Regions from separate parts of the Homo sapiens genome. Here region 1 is linked to region 2. A link means that fine-mapping ties the variant in region 2 to the expression of a gene that starts in the linked region. Tissue or cell type: fetal neocortex. Region 2 holds a variant in brackets; the other region holds the start of a gene. All regions are shown on one strand. Distances are between the middles of the regions.

The links. PIP is the estimated chance that this variant, and not a neighbour inherited with it, causes the effect.
Region 1: GAREM2 starts here. The variant in region 2 is fine-mapped to the expression of GAREM2 in fetal neocortex (Walker 2019, PIP 0.95).

What each region holds. Positions count from the first base shown.
Region 1 is chr2:26,169,449-26,177,448 of GRCh38, forward strand. It overlaps GAREM2 (GRB2 associated regulator of MAPK1 subtype 2), which reads left to right and starts at 3,640. Exons shown (of 6, transcript NM_001168241.2): 1 at 3,640-3,884; 2 at 6,896-7,036. The coding sequence starts at 3,773. RefSeq lists an enhancer at 6,102-6,640.
Region 2 is chr2:25,948,415-25,956,674 of GRCh38, forward strand. KIF3C (kinesin family member 3C) reads right to left here. Exons shown (of 8, transcript NM_002254.8): 2 at 7,929-8,030; 3 at 7,127-7,249; 4 at 5,853-5,971; 5 at 3,375-3,491. Among named protein-coding and RNA genes, the nearest start is that of KIF3C, 30 kb to the right of the region's middle. The variant C/T (reference allele first, on the strand shown) is at 5,094.

The sequences.
Region 1 (8,000 bases), 220 kb after region 2:
CGGGAAGCACAGGCCCAGCCACACACAGCACCTAGGCCCCAGATTCTCCCACGGCCACACCAAGCCACACAGCCTGGCCTCTCTGCCCAGCATCTTCCTCCCTCTTGGTGCCCTCTTGGCTCTCCTTCCTGCAATCTCAGTCCAAGGAAAGATCTAAACATTTCTGCCTCCAAGAGAAGCTGAGTTCCTTCCTGCAGGACTCCTGAGCCTCAGCAAATCAAGTGATGTATGTGTCTGGACACTTGTGTCAGGTCCCTGGAGACTTGACAACAGTTAAGAAGCCCTGGAAAGGCTCTGGAATATTCTGCAACAGTGAGGAGGTGGGTCCATTTAGTTAGGTGAATCTGCCTGGTGTCTCACAGCGGTGTTGCCCCTAACTCAGCCGAAATCCAGGGTTATAGGTTTTGGGTGTGAAATAGGCAGGTTGCCTGGGGGAGAGAAGATCCAAACTGTGAACGAAAGCCTGGCTGGGACTGGAGCTCCTGGGAAGAGGAGGCTGGGGCTCCATGACACCTGGTGGAAGAGGAATTGCCAGCACTTGGTGACTAGTTTGGTATAAAGGTTAGGGAGAAGATTTCCAGGTTGGGAGACCAGGGTAAAGGAGATGTCCTCAGCTGGGATAGAAAATAAAAGGGGACCCGGTTCAAGTGTGATTGTGGAAATGGAAGTGGCTGTGAACGCCTTTTGGGGGCGAAGGGGTAGAGCTGGAAGTTGAGGTCGGGAGCTGAGGAGAGCCGGCCATGCTGAGTAAGAGAAGCCACCGTAGATGTGGCGTCTCTGTCCAGGGCGCAGGGAGAAGGTGACCACGTGGCTCAATGCCAGTTTATACCTGCTGTCTGGAGCCCAGGCTACCTGCACCTGTTGTCCTAGCTGGGTGGGGAGGTGGTTAGTACCGGCTTCCCTCTTAAAAGTCTCCCAGTTAGGATGACACACGGTCACCCTAAAGAGAGACCCTACAGGGTAGGGGAAGAAAAGTGAATCTAAGGCAGCACCCTTCTCATTCACTTGCTTCTTCCGGCCTTTTCGCCCTCCTGTCTCAGACCTTCCATTCCCTTCTTTTCTTTTTTTTTTTTTTTGAGATGGAGTTTCGCTCTGTCACCCAGGCTGGAGTGTAGTGGCACGATCTCGGCTCACTGCAACCTCCGCCTCCCAGGTTCAAGCAATTCTCCTGCCTCAGCTTCCTGAGTAGCTGGGATTACAGATGTACCTGGAGTGGCAGACAAGCACCACCATGCCCGGCTAATTTTTTGCCTGGATAATTTTTGTATTTTTAGTAGAGACAGGGTTTCACCATGTTGGCCAGGCTGGTCTCGAACTCCTGACCTCAAGTGATCCACCTGCCTTGGCCTGCCAAACTGTTGAGATTACAGGTGTGAGCCACCGCGCCTGGCCCATTCCCTTCTTAAGACTCCTATATTTTCACTGTATTTTCTTTTCTTCTCCTGCCAGGCTTCACCTTCCCACTTCCCTGGGAAAGAACCCACCCCACCCCTACAGACTCAGGAGAGCGGAGTCCATCTGGGCTGCCTGAGTCACCGGGGTGAGCAGCTCCTCCCTGGCCAGGGTGAGCGGGCTGGGTTTGGGCCAGGCTGGGGAAGGGCCTCGGTCAAGTTGGTAGGTGGGGGTCCTGCCTTCTGGTCGCAGCGCTGCCTCTTTCTTGCCGTGTGACCTTAGAGCAAAGCATTTCTGCTCTTGGAGTCTCAGTTTTTTCCTCTGCAGCAGTTGAGGATTGAACCACTGATCTAAAACGTCTCTTCTCGCTGAGAAGTGGTGTTCATCTTGTCGGCTGCCATTTCTCATGGGGTTCGAGCCATAAGATGCCAGGTGTCAGTCACCTCAGAAGAGAGGGTTTTGTTTGTATTTGGTGGGGTTCTTCCGGGGGTACCGAGGCTGAGGACTGATGGATCGAGGCGGGTGGATCACTTGAGTTCGGAGTTCGAGACCAGCCTGGCCAACATGGCGAAACCCTGTCTCTACTAAAAATACAAAAATTAGCCAGGTGAAAAATTAGCCGGGCATGGTGGTGCTTGTCTGTAATCCCAGCTACATATGTAATTCCAGCTACTCAGGAAGCTGAGGCAGGAGAATTGCTTGAACCTGCGGGGCGGAGGTTGCAGTGAGCCGAGATCGTGCCACTACACTCCCGTGAGGGAGCAGCCTAGGGACTAAGGCCCGCTGGCTCCGCGAGATCAGCCAGGCCCGCATCATCCCCCAATTACCTGCAGAGGGCGCCGCAGACACAGAGAGGGCGAGGCCGAGGCCGAGGCCATCTAAGCTTCTGGGAAGGGGGTCCCAAAGGGAGGCCCCGAGCTGGAGTCCAGGGGGCTTGGAAGGAAGAGGTGAGGACAGCAGAAAAGGAAACGCAAATTAAAAGAAGGGAACGAAGGCTGGGCGCGGTGGCTTACGCCTGTAAGTCCAGCACTTTGGGAGGCCGAGTCGGGAGGATCGCTTGAGGTCAGGAGTTCAAGACCAGCCTGGCCAACATGGTGAAACGCCGTCTCTACTAAAAATACAAAAAAATTAGCCAGGAGTGGTGGCAGGTGCCTGTCATCCCAGCTACTCCGCAGGCTGAGGTGGGAGGATCGCTTGAGCCCGGGAGGTGGGGGTTGCAGTGAGCCGAGATCGCGCCACTGCACTCCAGGCTGGGTGATAGAGTGAGACCCAGTCTCAAAAAAAGAGAAGGAAAAGAGAGAAGGGATGGTGGCGGTGGGGGAGGAAGGCGGTTCTTGTAATGATCCGAGAGGAGACCGCAGCACCGGTTACGCCCTCGAACCTCGGCCTCCTCATCTGCAGAATGGACGCAGTCCACACCGCGTGCTGTGGAAGGGTTGGAGCGCCGGTTTACATGACACAGGGCTATCGGCTAAGGGGGCGCTGGGAACGTGGAAGGTGCTCTATGGTGGGGCGCTGTAGGGTGCTCTTGGGCAGTAGGGTTGGAGTCAAATCTGGGTTGAAGTCCAACCTAGGTTGAAGTCCTGGCTGCCACCTGACCTCTGCCCCTCAGTTTGCTCATCAGTAAAATGGGGTTAAGGAGGCTGCCTCGCCCAGCTCCACGGAGCCGGAGGTGATGAAGGTCCTGGAAGAGCAGAATTCAGAACCCGAGCTTTGGGCGGCGGAGCAGGACAGGGCGCGGGTGGGCGCGGCCTCCGGGAGGCCAGCACGAGGGGGAGCGGCGGGGCCCGGACACACCCAGCCAGAAGGAGGAGGCCGACCCCGCGCCGACTCCGCAGATGCCGCTCGGGACTTCGTTGTCCCTCCAGGCGCCCGCCCTGGGGTCCTCCATCACCCGCCGTCACCTGGGCGCGGGGAAGCTGGCGGGAGGGGAGGCGGGGCTTGGCGGCAGCGGCGGGTGGGGGCCGGGGAGCGGGGGCAGGGGCGGGCGGACGGAGCGCGGGGCTGGGGACCCGGGGTCCCAGAAGGGGGCGCGGGGACGGGGTCCGAGGAGAGGGGGCCGGGGCGGGGCAGGGCGGACAGGGCTGGGGGCGGAGGTCCGGGGGTGGGTCCGGCGGCGAGTCCGGGTCGGGGCGGACAGAGCAGGGGGCGGGGGTCCGGGAGGAGGGGGCCGGGGTCCGGGAGGAGGGGGCGGGGCCCGGGGGCGGGGCCGGGGTCGGCGCCCTGCGGGGAGGCCGGCCACGTGACGCCCGCGGCCCGGCGGGGCTGCCAGGCGGCGAGCGCCGCGGCGGCCCCGGGAGGTGGCGGCGGGCGCGAGAGCCTGGGCCGCGCGGGACTGACCGTCGGGGCCCCGGGACGGCGGCCCCGGGGCGCCCATGCCATGGAGAAGCTGGCGGCCGGGCTGGCCGGCCTGCGCTGGAGCATGGGCGCCTTCCCGCTCGACCTCATCGTCAGCCGCTGCCGCCTGCCCACGCTCGCCTGCCTTGGGCCAGGTACCGGGGTCGCTGGAGATGGGGACCGGGGTCCGCGGGGAAATGGTGGGCTCTCCAGCCAGGGGCCAGAGGGATCGTGAGGAGGGTGCGGCACCCGCACCCTCCCAGCTCCCCGGCGTGGGCCCCGAGCGGTTCCTGGCGCGCCTCCCGGGAGACGCGGGGCCCACCCGCCAGGTCCGCCTCCTGGGCCCCGCGGACAAGCACAGGCACAGACACCGGGGACAGGGCCCGGGACAGAGTTTTCCCGCCCAGCTGGAGTCCGGAAAGGGGCCGAGCCCCTGCTCCCGCCCCGTCGGTTGCCCCCCTTTCCCCCGCTGCCCCTGGGCCCCCCGCCCCGGCCGCGCCCCCTTGGTCCCTTTGTCCCTGGCCTCTCACCTCTGTCTTCCCTCATCCCTGGGACCCGGACTCTGTCTTCCCCTTACCGCCACCCCTAGTCCTGCTCCGCCCCTCTGGGGACCCTTCTTGCACCTCCTTTCTCTTCCCTAGGAGCAGCCTCGGTCCTGGGGCGGGCAGGCCACCTTCGGGAGAGGCCGGCGGGAGCCGGGTCTGCTGCCCGGCGTGACCCCCAAACTCCCGGCCCTCCCCCGAATCTTGTCCCACTTCTTAATAGGACCTGGGGCCCCCAGCCGCTCGGCTGATGGAACCACGCATGGGGGCCCGAGAGGGTACGCCCGGAGGCTGCATGGAGCGAGGGGACCGTTTGGGGGGAGGGGGGTGCTGCTTGGTTGGGGGATGGGCGGTAGCCGGGGCTGGCAGCCAGGCCGGGGGTTTTGTGTGTGAGAAGAATAGGGGTTTGGCCCGCGTTGGCACACTCGCTTCCATGAATGCTAATGGGGCCCGCGGCCGCAGGCTCCTCGTCTCCCCGTGGGGCCCGGCAGCCCCTCCTCCGTGGCGGCCAGGAGTGGGCACAGTGGGCGTCAGCTGTCCCGGGAGCAGGCTCATGGGGGAGCATCGGCGCCCCGCCGTCGGGCAGGCCAGCGTCTAGTTCTCTGGCTCGCGGCCGAGTGGTCAGAGTGTGGTACTGTGTCTGCCTGTGAATGGAGGTCGCTGCCCTGGGGTCTTCTGGCCACTTCCCACACATCCTTTTTGGCATCTCCCCTTTCTGGGCAGCTTTTCTGAGCTCCTCGGTCTGCGTAGGGCCTCCTTTGGGCTCCCCGGCCACCTCATGCCAACTCTGGCTTGTCTCCTACTGTGCACCCCATTATAATGGTCAGTCAGTTTATTGTCTTTAGACCTGGCTGTGGGCTCCTTGAGACCAGGCATCCTTGCCCAATAAAGATTATGGATTGAATGAATGGGTGAGTGAATGAACAACTGGTGTGATGGCCCAGCTGTCTGTTGTGTGTGACAGTGTGTGGCTATGGCTGGGTCACCATCAGGGTGTGAATGTCTGGTCAGAATTGTATGGCTTGAAGGGTAGGTCCCTGTGTGCCTGTGCATTTGGGAGGGGCCCCTTGGCCGGAGACTGAGTTATGTTGTTTGGGTGACAAGCATCTGTCACTGTGGGCTATTGTGGTTCAGCTGTTGGTGGTCATGAGCCATGATTACTGCTGTGTGCCCATGTGGCTGTGAAGATGGGGCTAGGACCCAGGACAGCTCTCAGAGGAGGGAGCAGAGTTGGAGGAGAGCTTCTTGGGCCCCCGGAGGTGAGGAGGTACAGGGGAAAGCTTAGACAACACCCCCAACACACACATAGTGGGGGCCAGGCCCTTCCTGTGCGTCTTGAACCGCCCGCCACCCTGCCACACACACACACACACATACACACACACGCCTACCCCACATGTACACATTTTATGGAGCCCCCAGCCATCAGAGTAAACCATTTCCCATTTGATTGGCAGAAATTTTGTAAGTTGTGCCTGAAGGAGAAAGGAAGGAGGTACTCCCTACCCCCACCCTCCCCACCAGCTGCAGCCCGGACACAGCCCCTTCTGCCTCCTGGAAGCTGGGCTGCCCCTCCTGCTCCCCTGGAAACCGTTGCTGGGGTTGGCGCCTCCAGGCCCAGACCCCTCCCAACTCCCAACACCTCTGCCCCAGAGCAGCTTCCCCCAGGCCCCAGGGCTGGGCCTCCCACTCCTGCCTTCTAAACCTGCTCTCTCAACCCCTCCAACCCTCAGCCGTCACCCCTGTAACTGGGAGGATGAGGGGGCGTGGGGAGGGGGTGTCAAGGAGCTGCTTCTCTGAGATGGGGTTGGGGGTTTCTGGGGACTCCCCCCTCTCCTTCGAGGTCCCCTTGACAAGGCAGTGGGTGGCTTCTCTGAGATGGGGTTGGGGGTTTCTGGGGACTCCCCCCCTCTCCTTCGAGGTCCCCTGAACAAGGCAGTGGGTGGAAAGGAAGGGCTGCCCTTGGGAGAGGCAGTAATCAGCTGCTCTAAGCCCTGTCATTCTCCTGACCTGAGCGACCCGTGGCTCTGGGGGAGCTCTCACAGCTGGGACCTTATAAGGGACAGTCCCGTCCGGGCCCTCTCCACTGCCCCAGTAGGGCCCTTCTTGCAGGGCCTAGGCCCTGACTGGGAAGCACAGCTCCAGCATCTCCTGCTCAATAAAGTCTCCCTTCGCCACCACACCCCCAGCTGGAGCCTACTGCTGCCCTCCGGGTCCCCAGACATACTCCAGTCAGTGCCTCAAACTTGCCTAGTCTCTGGTACATCTCTGCCCACCTCCCCAGGGGCCTAAGGGCTCCTGGAGGGCAGGGGCTGGTCTGGGCTCATCCATGGGGAGCTCCCCCTGCTCCAGCTCAGAGCCAGGGACAGCAGGCATTCCAGCCACTGATGAACGAGGGGCCCCGTCGGGAGTCACAGCCCTGAGAGGCTCACAGCCAGCCCCACAGCCCCAGGCCCCAGCTGGCAGCCCGCCTGTCCCTTGAGCTTTGCTGACCTGGACAGGGATTGTGTGGAGCTGTCCCTCAGGGGGGCGGTCTTGGTGAGGACGTCACTATCTGTTCTTTCTGCCCCTTCTAATGTCCTGTCTTCCTTCCCCTCATCCTCTGTCCTCCTCCCCCTTCCCAGGGGAGTACGCCGAGGGCGTCAGTGAGCGAGACATCCTGCTCATCCACTCCTGCCGGCAGTGGACAACGGTGACAGCTCATACCCTGGAGGAGGGCCACTATGTCATCGGGCCCAAGATCGACATCCCCCTGCAGTACCCAGGTGTGTCCAGCCAGGACAGATGTCATAAAGCCTGTAGGGGGGTGTAGGCAGGAGGGACTGGGGCCAGGGGTAGGGGGAACGCTGGGACTAGCGAGGCGGTGATTAGGGTTAGGGTTGGAGTCAGAGCCCAGCAGTTTTCATTCTGTTCTGTGGCACTCTGGGTTTCTGGAGAGGTGGCTCACAGGTTTTTTGATTCACATTTTATTTTAAAGTAGATTTGAAACTAATGATTAAAAAATACCCACACTCTTAAATTACTACACATCAGAGCTTAACCCTAATCAGAGGCCTTCAGGGTATACCTTCGGCTGCCACGCTTAGCCATCTTTGTGCAGACCCTCCAAGAGAACATGTCCTGCCAGGACCTTTTCTGTACCGCGCAACCAAATACCGCAGAAACCAGCGAATGCCCAAGCTGGTTACATGGCTGCACCTCTCCGCGCTGATCCTGTTTTTCCCAATTTTTGCGTTAAACCTATTGTTTCCATTGGTTGACTTTATAAGTGAATATTAAAAATTTTAGACTTCTAAAGATTATGCTAATGGACTACCTTTATTAGTTTTATACGTGACGTTGACATATAATAAGATTTTGTTTGAAGAAAGGATTCTGTTACCAAAACAGAGTACAGCCCCTTCCTTTTACAGATGATGAAACGGAAGGCTTGGGGGAGGAGGTGACTTGCCCCGTGTCACACATCTAGGAAAGGAAGAGCCTGGCCAGATCCAGGTATCTCAACTGAGGGCTGGTGTCTGCTGCACTACACCAGGAGCGTGTGGTTGCTGTCCCCTGTGTGGGAGGGATGGGAGTCTGGTGGCCCCATCCCAGAGACGTCCCCGTGTGAGCCCCGGATCCCACATCTGCCATGTGTTAAGCATGTGCTGCATGCCATATGCTGGGCCGAACATTTTTGCCATTTCATCCTCATGGCAACCTGATGAGAAAGTCTTGTCAACTCCATTT
Region 2 (8,260 bases):
GGTGGTGCATGCCTGTGGCCCCAGCTACTCAGAAGGCTGAGGCAGGAGGATCACTTGAGCCCAGGAGCCCGAAGCTGCAGTGAGTTATATACTCCAGCCTGGGTGACAGAGTGAGACTCAAGAAAAAAGAAAGCAAGAAAGCAAGCAAGGAAGTAAGGAAGAAAATAAAGAAAGGGAGAAAGAGAAAGAAAGAAAGAGAAAGAGAAAGAGAGAAAGAGAGAGAGAAAGAGAAAGAGAGAAAGAGAAAGAGAGAAAGAGAGAGAGAAAGAAAGAAAGGAAGGAAAGAAGGAAGGAAGGAAGGGAAAGAAAGAAGAAAGGGAAGGAATGAAGGGAGGGAGGGAGGGAGGGAAGGAAATTCATAATCATTATGCAGAAAGCTCATTCGAACTTCAGGTAAAGCACCTGCCACACTTTGAGTCTGGATCATGTGCTTGAGGCAGTCAAGTCAAAATTGCAGAGTGTTTTGAGAAATGAATAAATTCCTCTGAAGCAAGAAACTGCTAAACTCAAGTCAAAATCCCTTCTCAGTTCCACATTAAAGGAGACCAAAGAGTCATGACAATTAAATGAAATGCATGACTGCAGGTGGGGAGGGAGGGAAATCATCATAAAGGACATTGGCAAATTTTAATATTGCCTATATAATAATATTGTGACAATACAAAATTTCCTGAGTTTGATCATTGCACTGTGGAACACGAATGTTCTCATTTTTCGGAAGTACAGGTAAAAGGTCAAAATGTCTGCAACTTAATCTCAAGTGGTTGGGGGAAAGTTAAAGCAAGATATGGCAAAATGTTAATAATCTGGTGAAGGGTATACGAGAATTCTTTATACTATTCTTGCAATTCTTGTTTTCAAAATAAAAAGCTGACGTGGCCAGGCGCAGTGGCTCACGCCTGTAATCCTAGAACTTTGAGAGGACAAGGCAGGCAGATCGCTTCAGCCCAGGAGCTCGAGATCAGCCTGGGTAACATGGCAAAACCCTGTCTCTACAAAAAATACCAAAAAAAAAGAAAAAAAAATTAGCTGGGAGGAGGACCACATGAGCCTGGGGAGGCTGAGGTTGCAGTGAGCTGTGATTACACCACTGCACTCCAGCCAGGGTGACAGAGTGAGACCCTGTCTCAAACAACAACAACAACAAAAGTTAATGCACACCTTCTCAAAGCCTCTCCCATCCCACAACTAGTTGAGCACATTGGTGGCACTACTACATCCAATGTAAAGAAATTCCTTCACCTGCAAACTTTAAACTCAAGAACTTTTCTAAGGACTGGTGCAGTGGCTCATGCCTATAATTCCAGCATTTTGGGAGGCTGAGGCAGGTGGATCACTTGAGCTCAGGAGTTCAAGACCAGCCTGGCCAACATGGTGAAACCCCGTCTCTACTAAAAATACAAAAAATTAGCCAGGCGTGGTAGCATGCACCTGCAATCCCAGCTACTGGGGAGGCTGAGGCTCGAGAATCGTTTGAACCCAGGAAGCGGAGGTTGCAGTGAGCCAAGATCACACCACTGCACTCCAGCCTGGGCGAAAGAGCAAGTTTCACTGCAACCTCTGCCTCCTGGGTTCAAGTGATTCTCTTGCCTCAGCTTCCCCAGGAGCTGAGACTGCAGGTGCATGCCACCACACCCGGCTAATTTTTTGTATTTTTAGTAGAGACGGGGTTTCACCACGTTGGCCAGGCTGGTCTCAAACTCCTGACGCCAAGTGATCCACCCGCCTCGGCCTCCCAAAATGCTGGGATTACAGGATTACAGGCATGAGCCACCATGCCCAGCAGAAAGACCTTTTCTTTTCTTTTCTTTTTTTTTTTTGAGACGGAGTCTTGCTCTTGTTGCCCAGGCTGGAGCGCAATGGAGTGATCTTGGCTCACTGCAACCTCCACCTCCCGAGTTCAAGAGATTCTCCTGCCTCAGCCTCCCTAGTAGCTAGGATTACAGGCGCCTGCCACCACGCCCAGCTAATTTTTTTTTGTATTTTTAGTAGAGATGGGGTTTCACTATGTTGGTCAGGCTGGTCTCAAATTCCTGACCTCAGGCCATCCACCTGCCTCAGCCTCCCAAAGTGCTGAGATTACAGACTTGAGCCACCACGCCCAGCTAGAAAGAACTTTTCTAAGCATAAGATAACCCTTCAGAGTGAAGCCTCGCCAGCATCCAACTCCAGCAAATGTCATTGGAGCAGTGGTTTTCTAGCCTGGCTTCAAATGCAGAATCACAAAACCTAAGACCTGGGACCCTTTAAATCAGACTCTCTGCAGGTATTCTAGCTCCAGCCAGGGTGGAAAACCTCTATGACAGCTGATGTACTATTGAGAATCTCTACCTAGATTGGAAAGGTGGATTGTAGGTGCAAAGTAATACCATTGAAAAGTCCTCTATTCACGTGCTTGCCACTTACAAACTTATGTGGTATCACCTTAAGTAAAATCAGCCTTTAAGAAAGATCAAATAGGCATCTAAGCTATAGTTGTTAAAAAAAAAAAAAAGAAGAAGAAAAGAAAAGGAAGAAAGGAAAAAAAAAATAACCAAGTAGGCATCTGATGCTTCAGTGAGAAGCTGTAGACCTCTTGCTAGCTTCCCATCCCAGATTTAGGGAGACTCTTGCCCTATTTTAACATTAATATTCTAGAGAGAGCAAATAATCTCCAGGAAGGTGCATTGGTGTCCAGCCTCCTAAGCACCTCTCTCTATATATTTGCAATTAAGGGCCCATGGTTCAGCCGGGCAAGGCCTCACTCTGTTGGGATGTTCTTCATGGCCACCAGCAGAGGGAGCCACACACCCAGCCAATGGCCGCAGCTGCACCCAAGGACTAGGACATGGAAACAGGTGGAAATGCTGAAATCACCCGGATGAGCGAGCGCACTGAGATTGGATCACAGCTCTATCACATCATGATCTGATTACTTATTTCCCACTGGACTGTGAGCTCGGACCATGTCTAATTTATCTTCTGTCTCCTGAGTCTTGCACAGCATCCGGCACACAGTAGCGCTTGGCAAATATTAACTGTGGTTGCTATTTCGGGCATCTGACAAATGAATATTCACCAGACCTGGCCAGATGTTAGCATTCGCTAGGATTGTCAAGAGGCTGAGATGCTCTTCCTCCCTCCCGAGATCCCTCACAAGGTATTTTCTGCATCCCAGGCCAATGAGACACTTTTTTTCCCAGAACACCCTTCCATCATAGAGACCCCTACAATTAGATCCTGAGAAATTCATCCCCCATCGGCATCCTCCCCATCTTTTCCCCAATCCACAAAACATCTGTCTCCCTGCAGGCAAGGCCTCAGGCCCCTCACCAGCCCCGACCTGGAGTGGACCCACAAGTCCCCCAGCCCAGACAGCTGGGTTAGAGACTCACACGCCGGCTGGCACCAGTGGCTGGAACTTCCACTGCTCCTCCTCACAGTCCAGGAAAAGCCGGTTCATGATCTTGTTCTTCTCCTCCGGCGGGATGAAGTTCTCGATGATTAGGTACCTGGGAGCAGGAATGAAGGAGTGATGGGAAAATGGGTGAGCGAGAGACCACGTGGTGCATGTGAGGGTTGAAGGATTAGAAGCAACAAGCCAAGAGGCAGAGGGGGCTGGGCACGGTGGCTCACGCCTGTAATCCCAGCACTTTGGGAGACCAAGGCGGGCGGATCACGAGGTCAGGAGATCAAGACCATCCTGGCTAACACAGTGAAACACCATTTCCGTCTCTACTAAAAATACAAAAAAAAATTAGCTGGGCGTGGTGGTGGGTGCCTGTAGTCCCAAGCTACTCAGGAGGCTGAGGCAGGAGAATGGCATGAACCTGGGAGGCAGAGCTTGCAGTAAGCTTAGATCACACCACTGCACTCCAGCCTGGGCGACAGAGTGAGACTCCGTCTCAAAAAAAAATAAGTTAATTAATTATTTATTTATTTTAAAAAAAGAGGCAGAGGCAATGTGGAGGTGGGGAAAATCAAGAAGTTAAGGGGAAAGGATCCCTACAGAAATACTGCAGCTTGAAAAATCACTGCTTCTAACAGGTACACAAAATTAGAAAAATGAATAAATACTTTTATTTGATAGCACAATAGGGTGACTATAGTCAATAACTTAATTGTATATATATGTGTGTGTGTGTGTGTGTGTGTGTATATATATATATATTTTTTTTTTTTTGAGACAGTTTTGCACTTGTTGCTCAGGCTGGAGTGCAATGGCACGATCTCAGCTCACTGCAACCTCCACCTCCTGGGTTCAAGTGATTCTCCTGCCTCAGCCTCCTGAGTAGCTGGGATTACAGGCACATGCCACCATGCCTGGCTAATTTTTGTATTTTTAGTAGAGATGGGGTTTCACCACGTTGGCCAGGCTGGTCTCAAACTCCCGACCTCAGGTGATCCACCTGCCTCAGCCTCCCAAAGTGCTGGGATTACAGGTATAAGCCAGCAAATTGTATATTTTAAAATAACTTAAAGAGTGTAACTGGATTATTGTAACTTGAAGGATAAATGTTTGAGGGGATGGATACCCCATTCTCCATGATGTGCTTAGTTCACATTGCACACCTGTATCAAAACATCTCATGTGGCCAGGCGAGGTGGCTCATGCCTGTAATCCCAGCCCTTTGGGAGGCCGAGGAGGACGGATCACCTGAGGTCAGGAGTTTGAGACCACCCTGGCCAACATGGCGAAACTCCATCTCTACTAAAAATGCAAACATTAGTCAGGTGTGGTGGTGGGCGCCTGTAGTCCCAGCTACTCAGGAGGCTGAGGCAGGAGGACCGCTTGAACTTGGGAGGTGGAGGCTGCAGTGAGCCAAGACTGCACCACTGCACTCCAGGGTGGATGATAGAGCAATATTCCATCTCCAAAAAAAAAAAATCTAATGTATCCCATCAATATTAATATATGCAACTACTATATACACACATTTTTTAAAATAATTTTTAAAACAAATTTAAAAATAATTTTTTTTTTTGAGACAGAGTCTTGCTCTGTCGCCCAGGCTGGAGTGCAGTGGCTCCATCTCAGCTCACTGCAAGCTCTGCCTCCCAGGTTCACACCATTCTCCTGCCTCAGCCTCCCAAGTAGCTGGGACTACAGGCGC[C/T]CGCCACCACTCTCGGCTAATTTTTTATATTTTTAGTAGAGGCGGAGTTTCTCCGTGTTAGCCAGGATAGTCTCGATCTCCTGACCTCGTGATCCACCTGCCTCAGCCTCCCAAAGTGCTGGGATTACAGGCATGAGCCACTGCGCCCGGCCTTTTTTGTTTTTGTTTTTTTTTTTTTTTTGAGACGTTGTCTCGCTCTGTCGCCCAGGCTGGATTGCAGTGGCATGATCTCGGCTCACTGCCACCTCCACCTCCCAGGTTCAAGCAATTCTGCCTCAGCCTCCTGAGTAGCTGGGATTACAAGTGCGCGCCACCATGCCCGGCTAATTTTTGTATTTTTAGTAGAGATGGGGTTTCACCATGTTGATCAGGCTGGTCTCAAACTCCTGACCTCAGGTGATCCACCTGCCTCGGCTCCCAAAGTGCTGGGATTACAGGCATGAGCCACTGCGCCCGGCCCTAAAAATAATTTTTAAAAAATTTAAAATCACTGATTCTTATGCAAAGATGGTAGCCTCAGGGCCTTCGGAGTTACTTTTGGCCAGCACCTAGCGTCCATTTTGAGGGGTTCATCAAATACAGGCAGAGGAGGTAGAAGAAACTCCAGCACGTGGGCCCATCCCTCAGCCCTCAGACGCATTTTATTCCTAAAGGACTCATGGGAGAGGAGACAGTCAGGATGAGGCCTTAGGGGAGGAGAGGCCTGAGTAATGATGGCTGGCTGTGGGGACCCGGGATGAAAAGAGCTGCGGGCCCTACTTGAGCTTGAGTTCGCGGGTCTGCTCGTTCTGCGCCTCCTCCAGGTCCTGCCGCACGCGGATATACTCATCATGCTGGTCCTGGATCTCCGCCTTCACCGCCTGCAGCTTGGCGTAGAGCTGGGTGGGGACAGGTGCCACTCAGAGGCTGCTTGGTGTGGCAACGAGGCCCCAGTCACCCAGCCTGGGCCGCAGGGCTGCAGGCTCAGAGTCTACCGACTCAGCCCAGGATGAGGCTGCGGGTCCTTTTCTGAACTCCCCGCTGTGCCCAACCCACCACGAATTGGGCTGGGCTATTTAAAGTGGTGCCCCGCCCTCCTTCACTGAGGCCTGTGACCATTGTCTGCTCTTTCTCAGCTGCTATCAGCATCGTGGAATGTTCAAACGGGAGGGGACCCCAGGGACCTTTTGGTCCAATACCCTCCTTTCATAGATGAGGAAGCCAGGCACAGACTTGCTCAAGGTCACACAACCAGCCAATAGAAGAGCCGGAACTAGGACCCGGGGCTTATTTGGAGACCCAGCTCAGGAAGCAGGAAGCCTGAACGAGTTTGGAAGGTGACCCCTCCCACTCCAGTCTCTTCAGGGGCTCTCAAAAGTGGGGTGTGGAGGTAGCATGGCCATCCTGCTCCTCTCCAAAGCCACTGAGGGCTGGGTCCGTGGTAACTGCCACAGTGGCAGTGCCTCTGCCAGGCCTGCCCCTGGGCAGCCACATCACCCACCCCGAAGGGCCTCCAGGTTTTTCCCAGAATCCAAGCTAGAGCTTTGCTGCTTCCTGCCCTAGACCCCCCTCACATGTACATGTCTTTCCCTTGCCACGGGCTTTGCAGGGTTCTGGTGAGCGGCTATTCTCATCCCTTGACATGTCCTTGAGGGCCTTACACTCCCCACCTGAGCTTCCCGGGGTTCCAGTCTCCTCCTCAGCCTCTCTGTATTCCCCTGGCCCTGCTCCAGGCCCAGCTATCCCAACTGTGACTCACTGGTGACACTGAACGGGGTAATCACCCAGGACCATGAAGATGGTAACGCTGGATACTGCAAGTGACAGAGTTTGCAGCCTGTCATAGCCCACCCTGGCCCAGGAGAAAAGGCTCTACTCCACCCCCAGCCCCCGCCTCCTGCCTCCCCCTGTTGCTCACCCCCGAGGCCAAGCCATGTCACTCAGGGGTTCAGCAGTTCCAGCCAAATGGGGAGGAGTCCCTGAAGCACACATCCCTTGGGCAGAGACTGCTGGGCCTCCAGCACACCTTAACCGGTCCTGCTGCAGCGTCTCACCTTCTTGAGTTTCTTGGTTTTGACCTCCACCTCCTGCTGCAGGGATGTGTAGGTGCCCCGGAGCTCCATAGTCTCCTCGTCCCGGAGCATCATCTCCTGCTGCATCTCCCGCTCACGACGTTTCTAGGCCAAGGACGGGCAGTGTGGCTCAAAGGAGCAGTGCATACTCGGGAGGGCCAGGAAAGCTCAGGGGACTGGCTCACTCTGCCTGTCTCGGGACCTGGCTTCACCATGGCCCATGGCCCACATCCACTGCTCCCACCCAATCCTGCAGAGCCCCTGGGAACCCTCCTCTCAGTTCCCAGGGCCATGCCTTTGCCAGGCTCTGCCCCATGTGGATGGAGACCCCAGCCCCTAAGAGCTGGCCTACTCCAGAGGCGTTAGTCACACAGATGGAGGCACATCACACTGCCTTCCAAGCTGCCTCACCCTCTCCCCAAGTAGTATAATGGTTGATTGGTAAGACCAACAAACTGTGGCTCTTGATGATTTAGGGAAACAGTCATACAGTTGGCAAAGAACTCACACCACCTTGTGGAAGGCCCAGGAATTAGTACCAGGTGGCTTGTGGAGGCTGATGTTATGGAGAGCTATCACGTCCTCTCGCCCACCAGCTAGCAGTGCCCCTGCCAAAGGGAAGACCCTGGGCTAGTAGACCTGTGGGACCCAGGGTGGCATGTCTGAGATTCTCAGCACTGTAATTCCAGAGATCCAGAGTCCACCATGGTTTACGGCCCTGCACCTCCCAGACATGAGCTGCAGGCCACACTCTCCAAGGGGACCTGGCACCTGGAGGCCCTACCTGCTCGGCAATCTCCTGCCTCTTCAGTTCCAACATCTTCTGCTGTTCGTTGGTGTGATCCATGATGTTCCTGCCCCCGATGAGGAGCTTGCTCTCCATGGCCTGGGGACACAGAGGGGTTGGGAGGTGGGCTTTGCAAAGGGTCCACAACATTGCTAGCTGGAGAGATTTTGCTTCCCTGCTCTGTGGTCCTTCTGGGAGTGGACACCAGATGTGTCCCAGATGGGGCCTTGTGGCTTTCAGGGAGAATGGAGTTTTCCCCTCTAGTGTCTCAGGTCCCAGCACAAGGCTCTTATTGTCAGCAGGAACACTAGGGAGGCACAGAGGGTGCC